Regions from separate parts of the Homo sapiens genome. Here region 2 is linked to region 1. Evidence: fine-mapped expression QTL. A gene starts in region 1. The other region holds a variant in brackets. All regions are shown on one strand. Distances are between the middles of the regions.

Region 1 (9,046 bases):
AATGACTCCAAATTTACATCTCCGGCCCTGTTTTCTCCCTGGTTCTGCCTTTATATATCCAACTGCCTCAATATATTCACTTGGATGTCCACAGTTACTTCAAACTCAACAGAGGAAAACATGTTTTAAATGGCTCCCCTAGCCCCAAAACTTACCCCTTGCCAAGTCTTTCCCAATTCAATAAACATCACCACCTTCCATCAATTTTCTCAAGGCAAAGTCATCTTTCATGTCTCTGTTATCCCCTGATCGAATTCATTAGCAAATCCCGAGGGCTTCACCTTCAAAATATATTCTGGGCCGGGCGCGGTGGCTCACGCCTGTAATCCCAGCACTTTGGGAGGCCGAGGCGGGCGGATCACGAGGTCAGGAGATCGAGACCATCCCGGCTAAAACGGTGAAACCCCGTCTCTACTAAAAATACAAAAAATTAGCCGGGCGTAGTGGCGGGCGCCTGTAGTCCCAGCTACTTGGGAGGCTGAGGCAGGAGAATGGCGTGAACCCGGGAGGCGGAGCTTGCAGTGAGCCGAGATCCCGCCACTGCACTCCAGCCTGGGCGACAGAGCGAGACTCCGTCTCAAAAAAAAAAAAAAAAAGAATATATATATATATATATTCTGAATCATCTCCATTTCTACAGCCCTAACTCAAGCGACCATCATCTCTTGACTGGACTATTGCAGTAACTTGCTGACAGGACTCACTGTTCTGAGTCACTTCCCTCCATCTTAAGTGTTTCCACTTAGTGGCCAAGTTCTCTTTTAAAAATGTAAAGCAGATCGTATCATCCCATTCCTGGCTAAGACCCTCTCCTGGCTTTCTACCACACTTAACATGAAAGCCAAACCTCTTGGCTGGCCTACAAGATCCACTGTAATCTGGCCTCTGCCTGCCTCAGAACGTTCTCTTGCCAGGGTCCTCCACGTGCACTTTGCTGCAAACACAGTGGCCTCTGTTCTGTCGCTCAAACAAATGAAGCTCATTCTCACCTCTGGGCCTTTGCAGTTGCTGTTGCTTCTGCCTGGTATGCTCCTCCCTCAGATCTTGGATGGCTGGATCCTTTTCATTATTCAGGTCTTAGCTCAAATGTCATCTTCTCAAAGATGACTTTCCTAACTGCCATATCTAAAATAAACTCCCTTCAAGACCAGCCTGGCCAACATGGTGAAACTCCATCTCTACTAAAAATACAATAATTAGCCAGGTGTGGTGGCGCATGCCTGTAATCTCAGCTACTCGGGAGGCTGAGGCACTAGAATCGCTTGAACCTGGGAGGCAGAGGTTGAAGTGAGCTGAGATTGTGCCATTGCACTCCAGCCTGGGCAACAGAGTAAGACTCTGTCTCAAAATAAAATAAAATAAACTCCCATCCCACCTCCTCTCTGTATCATATTATTATATCGTGTTCATAGCATTTATTGCCATCTGAACTTGTGTTGTTTATTTTCTGCCTCTCTCCGTTAGAATGTACTCTTCATTAGGGCAGAGATGTGGTCTGTCTCATTCACAGCTGGTCCTCCAAGTATAAAGGCACCTCATAAATAGGTGATAAATAAATTAGTCCCATTTTACAGATAAGAAATGACATCTCAGAAAGATAAGTGACTTGCCCAAGATCACACAATTTCTAAGTGGTATAGCTGGGCCCAGGAATCTAGGTCATCCCAGATCAATGCCCACACTCTTCCCTATGTGACACGTGTCCTGCCACTTTCCTCCTCTGCAAGCCCCTTCACTGACCACCCTTCCTGTATCTACCTTTGCTTACATTTTCTGTCCCCGTCTCCTCTCCTCCCCACTTACACCTCTGCTTGCTCCTGTCCAGGCCTGCTTCCTGGCCTTCCTTTTTTTTCTCCATTTATACTTTTCTTTTGGCTTGATCTCAGTTCTCCCCAGAGTCCCTGCCGTTTTCTAGGGCAGCTCCCCTAAACCTTCCGGAGGCCCACAGAAGTAACAAAAGCTGCCTCTTTATTTGGTGGTGTGGTGGAATGTGGGGCATCTGCCTTGCTGCTTCCCAGAGACAAAGGGACGTGGGTGTTGGCAAAAAGGGATTTGGGGCCCACAAGCTCAGGTCCCAGGCAGCAACAGAAGTGCTGTCATCTGTCTCTCTTAATAGGTGCAGAGAGGCCCCACCAGTCACTTCTCATTGGCTTCATGCTTTCCCATGCCATCCTTGGAGGAACCAGAAAAAGGAATCCGGCTTGGAATTCAACTTGGATCACCCACCCCTGGCACTGACCAGGAGAACAAAGGGACAGGGATGCAGTATGAAGGAGGAGGCTGAAGGGGCAAGAGGAAAGAGCCCACCAGGGACAGGAGGTGACAGGGAGGCCAAGAAATGGAAGGGGAGGACAGAAGAGCCAGGTAGATGTGCAAAGAAAGAAAACTGGGGACAGAGGAGGATGGAGAGACAAGGAGAGGAAAAGGGTGAGACTAGTAGAGGAAAATGAGGTGAAATTACTGAATTTGGTTATTTTTATCTGCTGTGCTTCAGTCAAACCCTCAGGAAAAAAGTACTTAGGTGACCACTTGGATGGCCACCTCCCTCCAGTCCAAGTCCTGGGAATTACCTTGGAGCTGCTGGATCTGCTTGGTGAACACCTCTGCCTGCTGGGCGCTGGCTAGCCGTTCATCCTCCAGGAGCCCTGCAGGGAGAGGGGCACCAGTGTCAAGCTCGGATCCAGGGGAGTGCAGAGCCTCTGGGCCCGGGCACTGGGCCCTGGCCCAGGCACTCACCCTGTAGCTCCAAGGAGTCATCCTCATGCTGCCCTGCCAGTTCCCGGGTCTCCTCCAGTTCTGCCACCAGCTGCAGCACCTGAGCCCGCAGCTCCTCCAGCTCTGTCTCCGTGAGGCTCAGTCCCCGGTGCTTGTTGACTGACAGAGAGCCAACACTGCCACCTTTCTGCACTTGTTCTTCTTCTTCTTCCACCTCTTCTTCCTCCTCTTCCTCTTCCTCTTCCTCCTCATAGAGAGCTGGGAGTAACACCTCCCCTAGGAGACACAGCCATCCCACCAAGGAGTCAGCATCAACTTCCTTTCTGCCGTCCTTCCAGGGCCCTCAAACTCACTATGCCAGGGCAGAGATGACATACTAGTGCCACCTGGTGTCCCCCAAGGAGCCCCGGGGCAAGACCTGTACTCAAGATGAGTCCTCAGGTGTGAGAGTCAAGTTGAGAAGCAGCCCCTCCACCTCCCAGGCCCTTCCTGGACCAATGTTGCACTTGGTAGCCTCCTATCACTGCCTGTGGGCAGGCTGGTGCCCGCTCAGCCATGAGACACTTGCACAGGATTACCTGCTTCTTCTAGGCTGGCCTCTGAGTAGCAGGACAAGTAGTCAAGAAAGGAGACAGTGAGCGGATCTTTCGGTCAAATGGGGTAACAGTTACAGTTTGGAGATTTCTTGAAAGTTAAAAAACAAAACAAAACTGACCAGGCATGCTGGCTCATGCCTGTAATCCTAGCACTTTGGGAGGCTGAGGTGGGTGGATTACTTGAGGCCAGGAGTTCCAAACCAGCCCGGTCAACATGGTGAAACCCCTTCTCTACTAAAAATACAAAAAAATTAGCTGGGCGTGGTAGTACACGCCTGTAATCCCAGCTACTTGGGAGGCTAAGGCAGGAGAATCGCTTGAACCTGGGAACTGGAGGTTGCAGTGAGGCGAGATCGAGCCACTGGCACTCCAGCCTGGGCAACAGAGTGAGTCTCCGTCTCAAACAAACAAACAAACAAAAACAACCAAACAAAAACTATCCAGGTGGCTTGTGAAAAATCAGCCTTTCCATAATAAGAAAACATTGCCCGTCAGCAGGTAGAGAAAGAAAATATCTGATTGTAGAGGTTTCATTGGACAAACTCGGGCGCCCTTTCAAATGTATATTATTAAATACCTGTTTGAAATTTTCTACAAGGTCCACCTTGTTTTTCCCTGCTGCATGTCACAAGGTCTCCTCTCCCCTAGCTGAGCCATATGAGGCCCCTCCTACTCTGCTGACCACAAAGTAGATTTCAGGGGAAGTTTTAGGCTGTACTTGTGTGTAAAAGAAAGCCTACCATTTTAATGCATTAAAAAAACTGGGGTTTGGTGCTGGCCCCCAGCCTCTGGTTGTGAGCACCCGCTCCTTTACTGCAACGCAGTCCCTATAAATAGCAAAATGTTGTCTGGATGGTGATTGTTTGCTTTGTTTTAAAATTCTGAATCTCTGGTCTTACTTTATCTAATATCAGCAGCCTTAGGTTCAACTGGGACCCTTCGTGCCATCTGTCCCCCTTAGGGGGAGCAGGTTTGCCCATACTGAATGTGCAACGTGCAACACTTCACAGGAAGTACTGGCAAATGGACCAGCGTCCTTCCAGGGGCCTGGTGTTGGCAGCAACTGCCAAGTCACATGGGTGTGGTGGGGATACACGTGTGTTGGGAGGATGGCCTCACGCGCCCCCTCCTAGGCTCTCTCTTTCAGGCAATAAGGTATCCTAAAGAACCAAAGCCACAGGCTTCCATTCGAAGTTAATGTTGGTGGCCCCAGAAAGACAATTCACATGCCCAGTTCCTTGCTTTTTAAAATAAGAGACAGCTTGGGATCTGGGTCGGCAGGCAGTGAGGACAAACCCCCTGCTGAAAGGCTGCTTCAAAGCTCTGTCCAACAAGGCCTCTTTCTCTGTCTGGCAGCTCCCTCGGGACACATAACCTGGTTAGCTGGGGGGTGATTGGGGTCCCGAAGGGATGCATCCTGAACTTCTGTCAAAGCCTGAGCCCTGGGAAGGGCTGGAGCTCTGAGCTGCAGGAAGAGGGGCTAAGATGAACTGAGGGAAGGGCTGTGTCCTGGCTCAGAGGCCTGGGGGTCAGAGGGAGGAAAGAAGGGAATTAAGGGAGGAGGGGAGGGGAAAGAAAGAAGCCTTTTGGGAAAACTCACCCTCCATAGCTTGCATCCCCCGTCGTTCCAGGGACCCCCAGCGTTGGCCCTTCTTCCTCTCACAGCCCTCGGAAGCCTCATAGGAGCCTAGAGTGGTCACTGTGGGTCCTGAGAGCAGGGAGAAAGGAGGGGCTGGGGGGTGGGGGGCTGGCTGCGGGCTGGGGTGCAGAGGAAAGAAGGGGACATGTCTTCCAGCTCCTCGAGGCTCTGGGATCTGTAATCCCAGTGGAGGTGCCTGACTCACTCTGGCGGCTCTGCGACTCCTCTCTCTCGGCCACCTCTCAGCCCTGCCTCCCAGCCTCCTCAGAACCCGCTGTTCCAGGACCCTCTTGCTTGCACAGAAAGAAAGAGGGGGTGTGCGTATTTAGTCCGGGGGGACAGGGAGGAGAGGGCCAAGACTGAAAGAGGGCGGGAGCCAGTGAAGAAGAGGCTGAAAGGCTGAGGTGGCCTACAGATGGAGGGAGGGAGGAGTGGGGGGCGTGCGGGAAGGGGTAGGGCTGCGACCGCTCCCCTCCCCTCTCCTCCCATTCTCTCGCTGGACCTTGCCCACCCCACCCTCGCCCCGCGCTCAGGAGTCTCCGGGGCTGCAGGAGGTGTAGGGTCTGCAGTCCCGAAGGCTGGAAGCACCGTCGGACTGAAGTGGAGAGACGCGCTGGGGAGGGACCACCAGGCAGGATGCGGCCGGTGCGCGGAAGCCTCAGTCCCAGGCCGGAAGGATGGAGACCGGGCCCCGGTGGAGGCCAGGATGGAGGGAGGAAGACTTTGGGCGGAGAAAGGGGAGCCGCGGAGGCCGGGAGCACCTGGGGGTCTGGAAGGAGGAGGGATGGAGGAGAGAAAGGAGGGGCGGTAGACAGGTGACGGAGGGGCGGCTCTGACCTGGGCCCGGGCAGCTCCAGCCCGCGGCTCCCGCGCCGGCTCCGGCGCCCGCCTCCATGACCGCTCCCGCCGCCGCCTTCCGCCTCCCTGAGCAGAAGCCGCAGCCGCGAGCCCGGGGACCCGAGCCGGGTGCGCAGGGAGGGAGGGAGGGCGGACGAGGGGGCGGGGCCTGGCCGGGCCTCCTGACACCGCCCCCCGCCGCTCGCCGCCGCCCGGAAGCCCTCCCAGCACTCGGGAGCTCCGAGCCCGTGCAGGGGGCGGCGCGGGAGGGTGAGCGCGACCCCGGATACGCCCCAAGGCTCTCCCCTAGAGAGCGCGGGGAGCCGCGGGGCCCGGACAGCGTCAGGAGCTCCTAGGCTTATGGCTGCCCCAAGAGGGAGGAGCGAGATCCCCTGGTTCTGGCGGCGGGTCCCCCCGGGGTCTGCTGTGCCCAGGGACCCTTCTGCACCAGGTGTCAGGGCCCGGTCATGCTCAGCAATGGGGACGGCAAAGGACGAGGTGGGACTGTTTCCTCCAAAAGCGCAGACACGCGCGCCCCTCCTTCCCTCCCTCCCCCGCCCGGCCGGCGCCCCCACCTAGCAGTCCGCGCTGACTCCGGCCCCAGGCCCTGCCCACCCCTGCCCGGTGGCCCCTCGGCAGCCTGGGGGCCGGAGGAGGGAAGTCGAGGCCCGGATGGGCGAACGGCAGGGCCCTGACCTCTCCGCTTTCCGCGACCCCCCACCGAGCCAGGGCCAAGGACCCTCTTAGGAGGAGCCCTCCGGTGGCCCCATCAAGCCTCAGGGCCGGAAGACCCCCTCTCCTCCGCCCTGTCTTCCCTTCCGGTCCCACACCCGGTGGGCTGCGAGCCACGCCCCCACAGTAGCCCGCTCAGAGTGGGCACGACTGATGTTCACTCTCGTGGAAGGGAGATTTGGAAGCCCAGGGGGCTTATTTCACGTCTTCAACCATTCGTTTATTCAGGCTATGACTACTGGGTGCCGGCTCTTGAAGAGGCAGTTCTCACATCTCGGCAGGTCTCGGCAAGGATAGAAGTGGGCACAGTTGGGAACAGGGGCTCCCCAGCACATCCAGGAAATGGCTGGAAGATTCCTAAGCCAGGGACACACGCGGATCCCCTCTCTGGCACATCCACTCACAGGTCGAGGGCTAGTATTGTCTGCGTTCCCCCCGCTGCAGGAAAGGGATCCGGATCCAGACCGCAACAGAGGGTTCTTGAATCTCACGCAAGAAAGAATTCAGGGAGGTCCATAGGATAAACTAAAAGCAAGTTTATTAGGAAAGTAAAGGAATAAAGAATGGCTACTCCATAGACAGAGCAGCCCCAAGGGCTGCTTTTTTTGGTTATTTCTTGATGATATGCTAAACAAGGGGTGGTTTATTCCTGACACCCCCTTTCAGACAATGTAGGGTAACTTTCTGATGTTGCCATGGCATTTGTAAACTGTCATGGCACTGGTGGGAGTGTAACAGTGTGAGGATTACTAGAGGTCACTCTCACTGCCATCTTGGTTTTAGTGGGTTTTGGCCGGCTTCTTTACTGCAAGGTGTTTTATCAGCAAGGTCTTTATGACCTGTGTCTTGTGCCAACCTCCTATCTCATCCTGTGACTTAGAATTCCTTAAACGTCTGGGAATGCAGCCCAGTAGGTCTCAGCCTCATTTTACCCAGCTTCTATTCAAGATGGAGTTGCTCTGGCTCAAATGTCTCTGACATCCCACAGGCTCCCACGTCCACAAGCCATCCCTGTTCCACGGGAAGGAAGCCCTTCTTTGCCTGGACTTCCCCCTCCTTTTCAGCTGGGGGTCACCTCCAGGTGGCCTTCTCTGACTGGCACCCCATCCCTGCCCCACTAGGCGCTTTTGTGGTGCTCGCCCCTATTTGTCTGTAACAGCACCAGGCCCTCCGGGTTGTCCGGGCTCTGCCCAGTTTCCTGAAGGTTAGGGGGATCTTAGTTATCTTTGTATTTCCAGCATCTGACAGAGTTTCTGACACAGGATAAATGAGTTAAAGGTCAATCTCCCAGCTACCCAGTTAATGCCCTGTCTTATCATTTAACATGATTTCATATTTGTGGTGTTAAATGTTGCCTATTAATGATGATGTTGCCCATAAGTCTCTCTCCCTCCCCCAACTCCTTGCTCCTTTTTTCTTCCTCTGCCTCTCTCATTATCTCAGCAGAGAGATGATGAGCAGAGATCAAGAATGTTTTCTTTGCTCCCAGATGACAAGATTCTACTCCAGATCCTGTGGCCAAGGTGACACAGTTGTGGGGAAAGTTGAACAAGCCCACCCAGACCCCTTCTGCAGAGGGTTTACTGCAGACGCCAAGCCTGTCCAGATTTGGGGAGCAGAGCATTTGTCAGGGGTGGTAGAAAGGGGCTGCACTGGGGGCTTGAGGGATGCAGTGCTCTGGGAACTGGCAAAGACTAGTTCTGGAAGCTTACTGGCTGTTCTTTCTGCCCAGCGCAGCTCCTCCTGGTTCTGCCTCCGCCAGCAGGGCCACGTTAGCGGTTGGCCTTGACTGCTGACCTCTTGGTGAATGTAGGGAGGCACAGCAGGGAAATTGTCGATGGTGACATCCAGGGTTCAAGCTCTCCTCAGGGAGCTCTGATCCTGAGTATTAGGACTAATCTCTCCCTGGCTCCTGGCATGCAGGTCACCTTTCACCCTTGATTTGGGAGAACATTTAAGAGAGACCTGAACCAGTCTATTTTCAGGAGCCAAACTTGGTCAAACCCTGGCCAGACCAGTACTGGGTTGAGGGCGGAGGGAGGCAGTTAAAAGGCGGGAGAAAAGAGCTTAAGAGATATGAGGGAGGTGGGCTGTGGTCCAGAAATGCATCTCTGAGGGGCCAGGAGTGGTGGGCATGTCAGCCAGGTGATCAACCTAGGGGGATGATCTGAATTAATCCCTGTAATCCCTGGACTCAGGGCTCAGCCTCCCTCCTAATCCCATCCCAGGAGATCATCCTCTTTGAGGACTGATGTAGCCATTTATCCCCCTTTACCCTTATTTCTAAATGCCTAGATCCTTTCATTAAAAAGAAAAAAAATATGAGTATTTGAAACATGCAGAAAAGTATGGTACAGAGAATAACGTAACAAATAACCATGCACACAGAACTGAAATCCTACAACCAGTCAGATCTTGCCACATTTGATTCAAGGTAGCCCTCTATTTATGGTTTTCCAGTTTTACCTGTATGTATGTTTTACCTTTTATGAATGTGTCTACCAACAATACATAATTGCGACTTGTG
Region 2 (9,046 bases), 28 kb before region 1:
TTCCTCTTTAATACGCCTGGGTAACAGTGTATCATTAAGACAAGGAGACAGTCCAAACCAAATGAAGAGAATGGGATTCTAAAATGAACGGAGGGCCGGGTGCAGTGGCTCACACCTGTAATCCCAGCACTTTGGGAGGCCGAGGCGGGCGATTCACTTGAGCTCAGGAGTTTGGAGCAGCCTGGGCAACATGGCAAAACCCCATTTCTGCAAAAAATACAAAAATTAGCTGTGCGCGGTGGTGAGCACCTGTAGTCCCAGCTACTCTGGAAACTGAGGTGGGAGGATGGCTTGAGCCTGGAAGGTGGAGGTTGCAGTGAGCCGAAATTGCACGAGTGCACTCCAGCCTGGGCAACAAAGCCAGACCCTGTCTCAATCAATCAATCAATTAATCAATGAAATGAACAGAGAAGGACATGTCCTAAAGGGAGGGGTTTTGTAGTCTAAGCAAAAAAGTGGGAAAAGCAGGCCCACATTCCTGTCATTAGGCAGGGTCTAGGTTCAGGTCCCCTAGCTGGGGACCACCCTACTAGAACCTGACCTCTATCCTGGCTTGTAATTCCAGGTTAAATCAGTGATCTTTGCTGTCTTAGTCCATTTGGGCTGCTGTAACAAAACACTATAGACCGGGTGGCTTATAAACAACAAGAATTTATGTCTTACAATTCTGGAGGCTAGGAAGTCTGAGATCAAGATGCCTGCAGATTCCATGTCTGGCGAGGGGCCTACTCCCTCACAGATGGCTGTAGTTTGTTTTGTTTTGTTTTGTTTTGTTTTCTTTTTGAGATGGAGTTTCACTCTTGTTGCCCAGGCTAGAGTGCAATGGCATGATCTCGGCTCACCACAACCTCTGCCTCCCAGGTTCAAGCGATTCTCCTGCCTCAGTCTCCCGAGTAGCTGGGATTACAGGCATGTGCCACCACGCCCGGCTAATTTTTTGTATTTTTAGTAGAGATGGGGTTTCTCCATGTTGGTCAGGCTGGTCTCGAACTCCTGACCTCAGGTGATCCGCCCGCCTCGGCCTCCCAAAGTGCTGGCATTACAGGCATGAGCCACTGCGCCCGGCCTGGCTGTAGTCTTACTATAAACTTACGTGGCAGAAAGGGTGAGGGATCTCTCTGAAGTCTCTTTAATAAGGGCTCTGATCCCACTCCTGAGGCCTTTGGTCTCATGACCTAATCACCTCCCAAAGCCCCCCTCCTAATATTATCACTTTAGGGGTTAGGGTTTCAACATATGAATTTGCAGGATAGGGGGCAGACACAAACATGCTTACCATAGCATTTGGCTATAAGTCCTTTCCACCACCCATACCCATGTTCTTCAGTCAACTGGTGGCGGCAGTAAAGTGGGTAAATAGCAGTCTCACTATACTGAAAAGCAAGCAGCCAGTGGCACCAGGTCAGTTGTGAAATAATTTCTTTAGGTTACAACTGAGAACATACAATCTAATATAATTGACTAGGGTGGTGCTTCTCAAATGTTACCGTGCATACGAATCAACTGGGCATCTTGTTGGAAATGCAGATTCTGCATCAGTAGGTCTGGGTTGGGGCCTGAGATCTGCCTTTCAAATAAGCTCCCGGGCAATGCTGATGCTGCAGATCTGTGGGTCACATGGACTAGCAAGAAGCTAGACCAGCCTAGGTCAGAACTGTCTTCAAAGAGGAGTCACTTAGAGCTGGGGTGCACAATCCCCAGGCCATGGACCGATACTGTCAGGAACTTGGCCACACAGCATTAGGTGAGTGGTGGCTAGGCAAGCATTACCACCTGAGCTCTGCCTCTTGTCAGATCAGTGGCAGCATTAGATTCTCATAAGGAGCAGGAACCCTATTGTGAACTGCGCATGTGAGGGATCTAGGTTGCACACTCCTTACGAGAATCTAGCTAATGCCTGATGCTCTGAGGTGGGACAGTTTCATCCCGAAACCATCCCCATCCCCTCTCCATCTGTGGAAAAATTGTCTTCCATGAAACCGGTCCCCGGTGCCAAAAAGGTTGGGGACCGCTGATTTAGACAAAGGCAAAAGAGGCATATGGCACTGTCCTCAGTTTGCCTAGTTGCAGTCACGTTTCTAGGAGGCTAGTCACAATTTCAGCACTAGCCCCATGTCTGCCAAAATGGACTTTTGATTCAGCCGTGTCACTTCTCTGGGCTGAATACAACTTGAAAATATCCTAATTCTAAATGTCCTTGCTACTCCCTGTAGGTAAGAGCTAGAGAAGGAAAGAATTCATTTAGCTTGGCAGTGCTACCACAGTATACACTCTGTACATGTGTTTCTTTGGATGTTTGATTGAATGGAACAAAGTCCTTTTGGGTGGGAGGGAGGAAGAAAGAGGGGTCCAAAGAAAGCCAGGAGTCATGGGGTCATTGTTTCCACTATGGTTTAAGAATATGCTTGGGGCTGGGCAATATGCCTCATGCCTGTAATCCCAGCACTTTGGGCAGGCTGAGGCAGGAGGATTGCTTGAGCCCAGGAATTTGAGACCAGCCTGGGCAAAATGGTGAAACTCTGTCTCTACAGAAAATATAAAAATTAGCTGGGCATGGTGGTGTATGCCTGTGGTCCCAGCTACTTGGGAGGCTGAAGTGGGAGGCACTTGAGCTCAGGAGGTGGAGGTTGCAGTGAGCCAAGATGGTGCCACTGCACTCCAGCCTGGGTGACAGAGTGAGACCCTGTCTCAAAAAAAAAAAAAGAAAAAGAAAAAAAGAAAGAAATAAAAAGAATACGCTTGGGGTCTTCTTTCGTAAGGAAACATTCATGATGATAAACTCCAATCACAAAGGTTCCACAGGAATGAAGGTAAACAGGAACACACATAAACTATCCTCATCATTCTACTTGTCCCAATTAGATCCATCTTCAGGCCTCTGTCCTGCTCTAAGCTCCAGGAGGCTGAGCTTGAAAGATTACATCACCTGGGCACCTCTGCGCTTTGTCTTCCCATTGAGTTCAGCTGATAAGGTACCAGTAGAATACTGGCAGGTGGGAGGAGAAGGTAGGGGAATATATATCCCACTTCCTCACGGCTCTGGCGGGGGCTGCACCCCATGTGGCTGCCACTCCTGCCTGGGGCCCATTTTCAGAGCTCCAGCTCTTGCTTCCTTTCCTTCCTGCTTCAGCCTGGGATGCTAACAGCTTTACACTGTTGCTAGTGCCTGGTACTTCACTATTTTTTGTTGCTTCTCCTAACTCTGCCTTTGGTACATAGTCTCTTCATTAAACTCTCTTCATGTAAAGCTTTGAGTGTGCCACCTGTTTACTGCCAGGACCCTGGCTGATTAAAGTCATCTCTGAGGGCGAATCCCTTGAGAAGTCACAAAGGCTAAGTCACGAAGGCACACACGTGGATCTTCTTAGGGCGGCCTTCTCATGTAGATAGGTGTGGGCACAGAACCTTAGGGGAGGTCTCCCCAGCCCTCAGTCACTCCATTTCTCCATGCTCAGGAGAGCACCTCAGGATGGGGTTAATAAGCACAGACTAACCCCTCTGTGAGTCAGTCGACAGCACAAGGGGCTAGCCTCATTTCTGAGGCCATCTGCAAGGTGAGAAGCCGCATTTAGGAGTCAGACCCTTATGTGAGGTACTTGGTTAAAGGGGGACTGCTCTGTTCTGGTTGTGTTGTGAGGCATTTAGCAAATAAAAATCCACAGTCTCATGTAATTCAGTTGATATTTAATTACAAGGAACTCAGGTTCTTACACAAGGCAGGAGATGGAAGTCAGCCGCTCCCCACAAGCCTTTTCAGCCTGGGTGACTGAGGCTGAGGAGATGGGGACACATGGAACATATGGGGAGGGTTCTGGCACAGTGTGTCCTGCCCAAAGCTGAGGGTGGTGGCCACTGGGGATCTGCCCTCGCGCTGGCCAAGGTCTGCCATCACTCCATGAGGCAGAACTCTGACTCCTGCTGTCGCATGTTGGGTAACACATACAGAGCCACAGCTGCAATAGCCAAGAATACCATAGGCTTCCACAACCCAAACATGTTCTGTGGGGACCAAAGAGAAACTGTGAGTGCCCAGCCTCCTGAACCCTGCCCTAAGCCAGAAGTCACCTGCCTATGGGTGCCCAAGACACCTCAGGAACATTGTGGATCAGTCTCTGTTACCTCCTGGGTAACCGGTGGAGGTAAGTGATCTCTCAGTCCTGGCACCACTAGACATGTGGCCCAACACTGTACGCACCACCTTAGGTGACCGCCTGTATTCAGGCCTCCGTTTCTCCCCATGGGCTGAGAATACTAGCTCCCATGTGAAGAAGCAGGCTCAGGGGCCAGACTTCCAAGTGGTTGCAATGAGAAAGGACTGGATGCCATGGCAAGAAAGAGGAGGGGAAATCTGGGGCTTTGAGAAAAGCAGCAGCACCTCATTAGTTTCACTGCAGTGAAGTGAACTCAGAGTCAAGAGGATGGGGAAGGGGGAATAAGGCTGAGGGGAAATGAAGAAAGTGCACCACGGAGTGCAGGTAAGTAGGAGGTTCTTAGGCAGACAAACTTTGACAGAGAATGACATTGGTTCAAGGAAATTTAAGGAAACCTGTCACTGGGCCTAGGTCATTAGAACACTCCTAATCACCAGGTATGTTGACTGACTTCCTGGTGCATGTGCTAGAGTATGCTGAGGCTTCCAGACACTGCCGGCCACTAGGGAACCCTGCTGATTCATGGGACAAGTGGCACCATCGAAGATATCCAAAAAGCATCCATTAGGTAATATGAAAATCTTAGACAAGAAAATACATACTTGGGGAAATAGGTTTTATTTTTATTACTTTTTTACTCTACTAACTGAAAGGTAGAATTTGGATTTTGAGTCATAAGCTATGGCATAGGTAACAGAAGGATGGTTTCAAGTAAAAATGGAATATAGCCCATTAATGCTAAGAACACATTTTCTCAGATGATAATTGATCTAAAAAGAGGACTTTAAGCCTGCTAAAGAGCAAAGAAAATCTCCTGAGCTTATAGAAATAGCTACTAAGAACAACAGAAGGTATGAAATGGAAAGCCAAGCAATGTTACAGGTGGATATACAGAGTAACTCATGTAAGAAAACCAAGAGATCCGGAGGCTGAGGGAGGAGGATCGCTTGAGACC[G/A]GGAGTTCAAAGTTACAGTGAGCCATGATCATGCCGCTGCACTCTAGCCTCGGTGACAGAGCGAGACCCTGTCTCTAAAACCAAAAACAAAAACTAAGAAGGGAGCTAGCTAGAAAAAAATATTTATATGCTCAGATGCCTCTATCCTAATGTGCATTGCTAAGAATGTTAGTCTGGTGTTCTTAAAGGAGGGAGGAGCTGAAATCCTTAAATGTGACCCGTGCACCTCACACTGGGCAAAGGCAAGCTTCTACATGGGATGGGGAAAGGGCTGGTGTGGGTGTCCCAAAGGGGAAGTCGTGTCAAACTCTCCTTTTAAACTAGGTGACCTAAGTGACAAATCACCGGAATCATGTTTTTGGACGTTGAGTTGTTTGACAGAATTTTCTATGATCTTTGCAGATAATATGCAGAAATAAGGGTAGGATGACAGTACAGTTTGTTGAATGGCAGGTAAGTGACCAATGAGCTGAATAAAAGAACCCCAAGAGACGACACTCTAGAGGCTCTGTCCTCACTCTGTCCTCTGTAGATGAAGACAGGGAAGGAGGGCTTGCCACCCCTGTAGATGATGTGAAGGTGGCAGAGGAAGTGAATATTTTAAAACCACAGGGTCAAGATTAAAAACACATACACACAAAACCTTATAAGGTAAGAACAATGAACTATAATAGGGAAGAATGGAAAATTCTGCCTTTGAAGCCTCAAAATCAAATGCAGGTACAGAATGGGGAGAGGACGCTTAGCATACACAATCTGCAGAGGGGCTTATAAAAAATACATGAAATAAATAAATAATATATTAGTTACCTAAAGAGCTAATGTGATCTGAGGTTGCCTAAACACAAGTATGGTGTCTTCCTACTTGGGACCAATGAAGAGAAACTGCTCAAAATGAGGAGAGACAATAAAGGGAAGCAAGACTGGAATCTTATTTGTTGCTAATATTGAGTCCTTATAATCTGACTCGCAGCTTCCTGGCTGTTTTACTTAACTTCTCTATGCCTTAGTTTAATCATATATAAAAAAAAATAGGAGTAGCTTCTTCATGGGGTTGTTGCAAGGATTAAATCAGTTAATATACGTAAGTGATTAGAACAGTGCCTGACACATAAGACTGCATTTTGTAAGTGCGTGCTCTTTTTATTAATGATGGGGTATTTTATAATTTATAGAATACTTTCATCTACTTCAACCCATCTGGTCCTGACAAAAACCTGTGAGGAGGGCAGAGGTTCGATCATCCTTTGCTTACATTTGAAGAAACTAGAGCTCAGAGTGTGCATTTTGCTCCCTGGGACAACGCCTGTCAGTAGAGACAGACTCAACCAAGTTCTTCTGACCGCCTGGCAGCCACGCTTTCTACCACACTGTGCTCCCTCAGGTCCTGGCTGCACAGGTGCATGTTGGGGCCTCCTGGAGCTCTGGGGATAACAGGCCCCACCAGGAGAACCCTTCACCAGCAGTTCTTCCTCTCCCTCTGATTGGGCCGGGCTGGGTCTGAGGTAGTGGAAGGCTGTGGCTGAACTCTTTGGGTTTCACCCGTAGTGCCTTAAGACTTCTGGGGGGTGACAGGGGAGAAACAGTCATAGAGAGGGGCCCCGTCACTAAAGCAGTTGTGGACCAGGGAGTAAAGGGAATACCTAAAGTCAAGAAGAAAAGTGGAGGCTTGAAGATGAGTAACAGGAAAGCTGGGGAGGGAGCAGGAGGAAGGACAGAAAAGGAAATGGAGAGAAGTGCCACCAACAAATCCTCCAGTTGCCACCCTGTGCATTAAGCTACATTCCGTTCACAGGAATGTGAGAAGAGAGGGGAGTGGAGGGGGAGGCAGGGAAAGCATGAGAGAGGAGCCAATGCAGGACTAGAGAGAATACCTTATGGGTTCCAGAAGGCAGGTGGAACCCCAGGCTTCTACCTTAGGCCGTAAGACCACATTCTGCCTCCTGAATTTGGTATCCTGTTGACAGTGTACATTACATGTGTGGGAGCTGACAGGAAAGTGGCCAGAATATATCAGTCTTGATTTCCTGAGAACACACATCTCTGGCTAGTAGAAACTTTTCACTAATACCTCATTCTCTCCAGAAAACCTAGCTGGGGAAGCCAATTACCATGGAATCTGGCCCACAAAATAGATAAATAGATAACTAATAAAATTTCCCGGCATTCTGTTCTGACTTTTCCGGAGACTGGAAGTCCAGAAGCAGAGAACTGTTCAGTAGAAAGAGCAGAATACAGTAGGGGTTCGGTTCCATTTCACCAAGCTTGATGGACCAGCTTAGGTTGCCCTCCTACCAATGCCCCTGGGAGGATCATGAGGATCAGAGCTCTTCAGAGCTCCTCTCTCTCCCAACAGAAGAGGGATTCCTTATTTTGCCATCTTGGGTAGCAACAGTAGTGAGAACTTGGCTCCGGAGTTAAACCAAGACAAAGAGAGTCCAGGCCAGCCTTGCAAATATCAGCTCATCAGAAGTGGTCAGGCTAGCCATCACACAGAGGATGAGCGGGGATAAAGAAGTAGTGAGGCAGCTTTGACAGCAGCAACCAAGCTGGGCTTATCCAAGTTTTTCCCAGCCAAGGATTGAAACAAACCATGTCTCTGGCAAGCATTCCAACCTCCTATGCATTACGAAGACATGCTCAGAGATGTCAGAGGCTTTGCAGTAGCCCAAGGAAAAGTCAGAACTAAAACTCAGACCTGAGCATCACCTATTATAAAATGGCACAAGCAAGAAGCAAGCAGCTGGGAGAAAAGGGAAAGAGGAGAGGCCAGGGCAACCTGCACCCTCCCTCTATCCCTCAGAAGGAGAGGAAGCAATACCAGTACCTGCATTAGGACGACGTCTCAGCCCACCAGCACCAGAGCAAAGCCGAGATGACCACCAGGCCTACAAGAGGCAAGGAGAAGATGGGGGGATTGGGGGTAGGGGATGACTGCAACACACCAAAATGAGAAAGAAGCACGAGGAGAGACCAGGAGATGTGAGACATAAACGCATGGATCCAACAGATAATGAAGATGAGAAAACAAAGGGAAAAGAGAAAGGAATCAAGAGGTTAAAAAACAGGTAAGCTAGAGCAGTTGCATGTCTTTTCTGCTGCCTGGGCCTTGGTTCTTTCCACCGGCAGTCTGCAGGAATTGCAAAATTGAATGGGTTAAGCAGCAGCTAGGTCCAAGTCAGGCGGTGAGTCCAGTTTTCTTTCTGTCTCGTCACATACCTCTCATATCCTGTCAAGCAGGAGGTATCTGCATCTAGACCTTTCTTGTGACTTTTCCTAGGTCACTCTAGGAAGAGCCAGTCTTCTACCAGGTCACCTGTCCCTTTGTTCTAGCCTGCTTTCCATTAAGTTTCTTAGTATTTTGGGCTCTGGTCCCTTAGATCCCCTAGGAATCTAATGATATCATTGTAAGACAACATGCACCGAAACAAACTGACAATGGAGAAGGGCTAGTTCTTTCACTGCAACAATCTTCCAGAGAGAAACCGATTTTGCAAGGTGGTAATACACATGCCCTAGAGCTGCCTGCAAAAGACGCAGGACCCACGGGGCAAAGGGATCTCTCCATATATAGAAACATAGAATATATTTGAAGTAGAAAAATCAGGTCTAGCTTTAGAAATGTGGCACCGAAGGTAAAGACATCTGTGAGGCTCTGAACCAGCACGTGGTGGAATATGATGAGCTCAAGGAAACATGATAGTGGGAGGGGCTGCAGTGGTTCCGACTTTCCACATCTTAGGTAATGGTCCCCTGGCACAAGGTAAGCAGAGCACTGCACACTGGATCCTTAGCCAGTGCTGAAGACCAAATTGCTGGAAATTCCAGATATCCTCAGAGTTGACTGGATAATCCCACCACAAGAGGCTTTTTTTCTTTACCTCTGTTTAGAACAGAAAGAACCTGTAATGTAAGCTGAGGACTTACACAGGAAATACTC

What was found. PIP is the estimated chance that this variant, and not a neighbour inherited with it, causes the effect.
Region 2: its variant is fine-mapped to the expression of CCDC136 in whole blood (INTERVAL, PIP 0.97).

The regions. Positions count from the first base shown.
Region 1 is chr7:128,788,293-128,797,338 of GRCh38, reverse strand. It overlaps CCDC136 (coiled-coil domain containing 136), which reads right to left and starts at 5,371. Exons shown (of 18, transcript NM_022742.5): 1 at 4,912-5,371; 2 at 2,737-2,991; 3 at 2,571-2,645. The coding sequence starts at 4,927. RefSeq lists silencers at 5,988-6,256, 5,795-6,264.
Region 2 is chr7:128,816,752-128,825,797 of GRCh38, reverse strand. It overlaps CCDC136 (coiled-coil domain containing 136), which reads right to left. Exons shown (of 18, transcript NM_022742.5): 17 at 7,934-8,040; 18 at 3,668-3,999. The coding sequence ends at 7,939. Among named protein-coding and RNA genes, the nearest start is that of FLNC, 9.1 kb to the left of the region's middle. The variant G/A (reference allele first, on the strand shown) is at 5,107.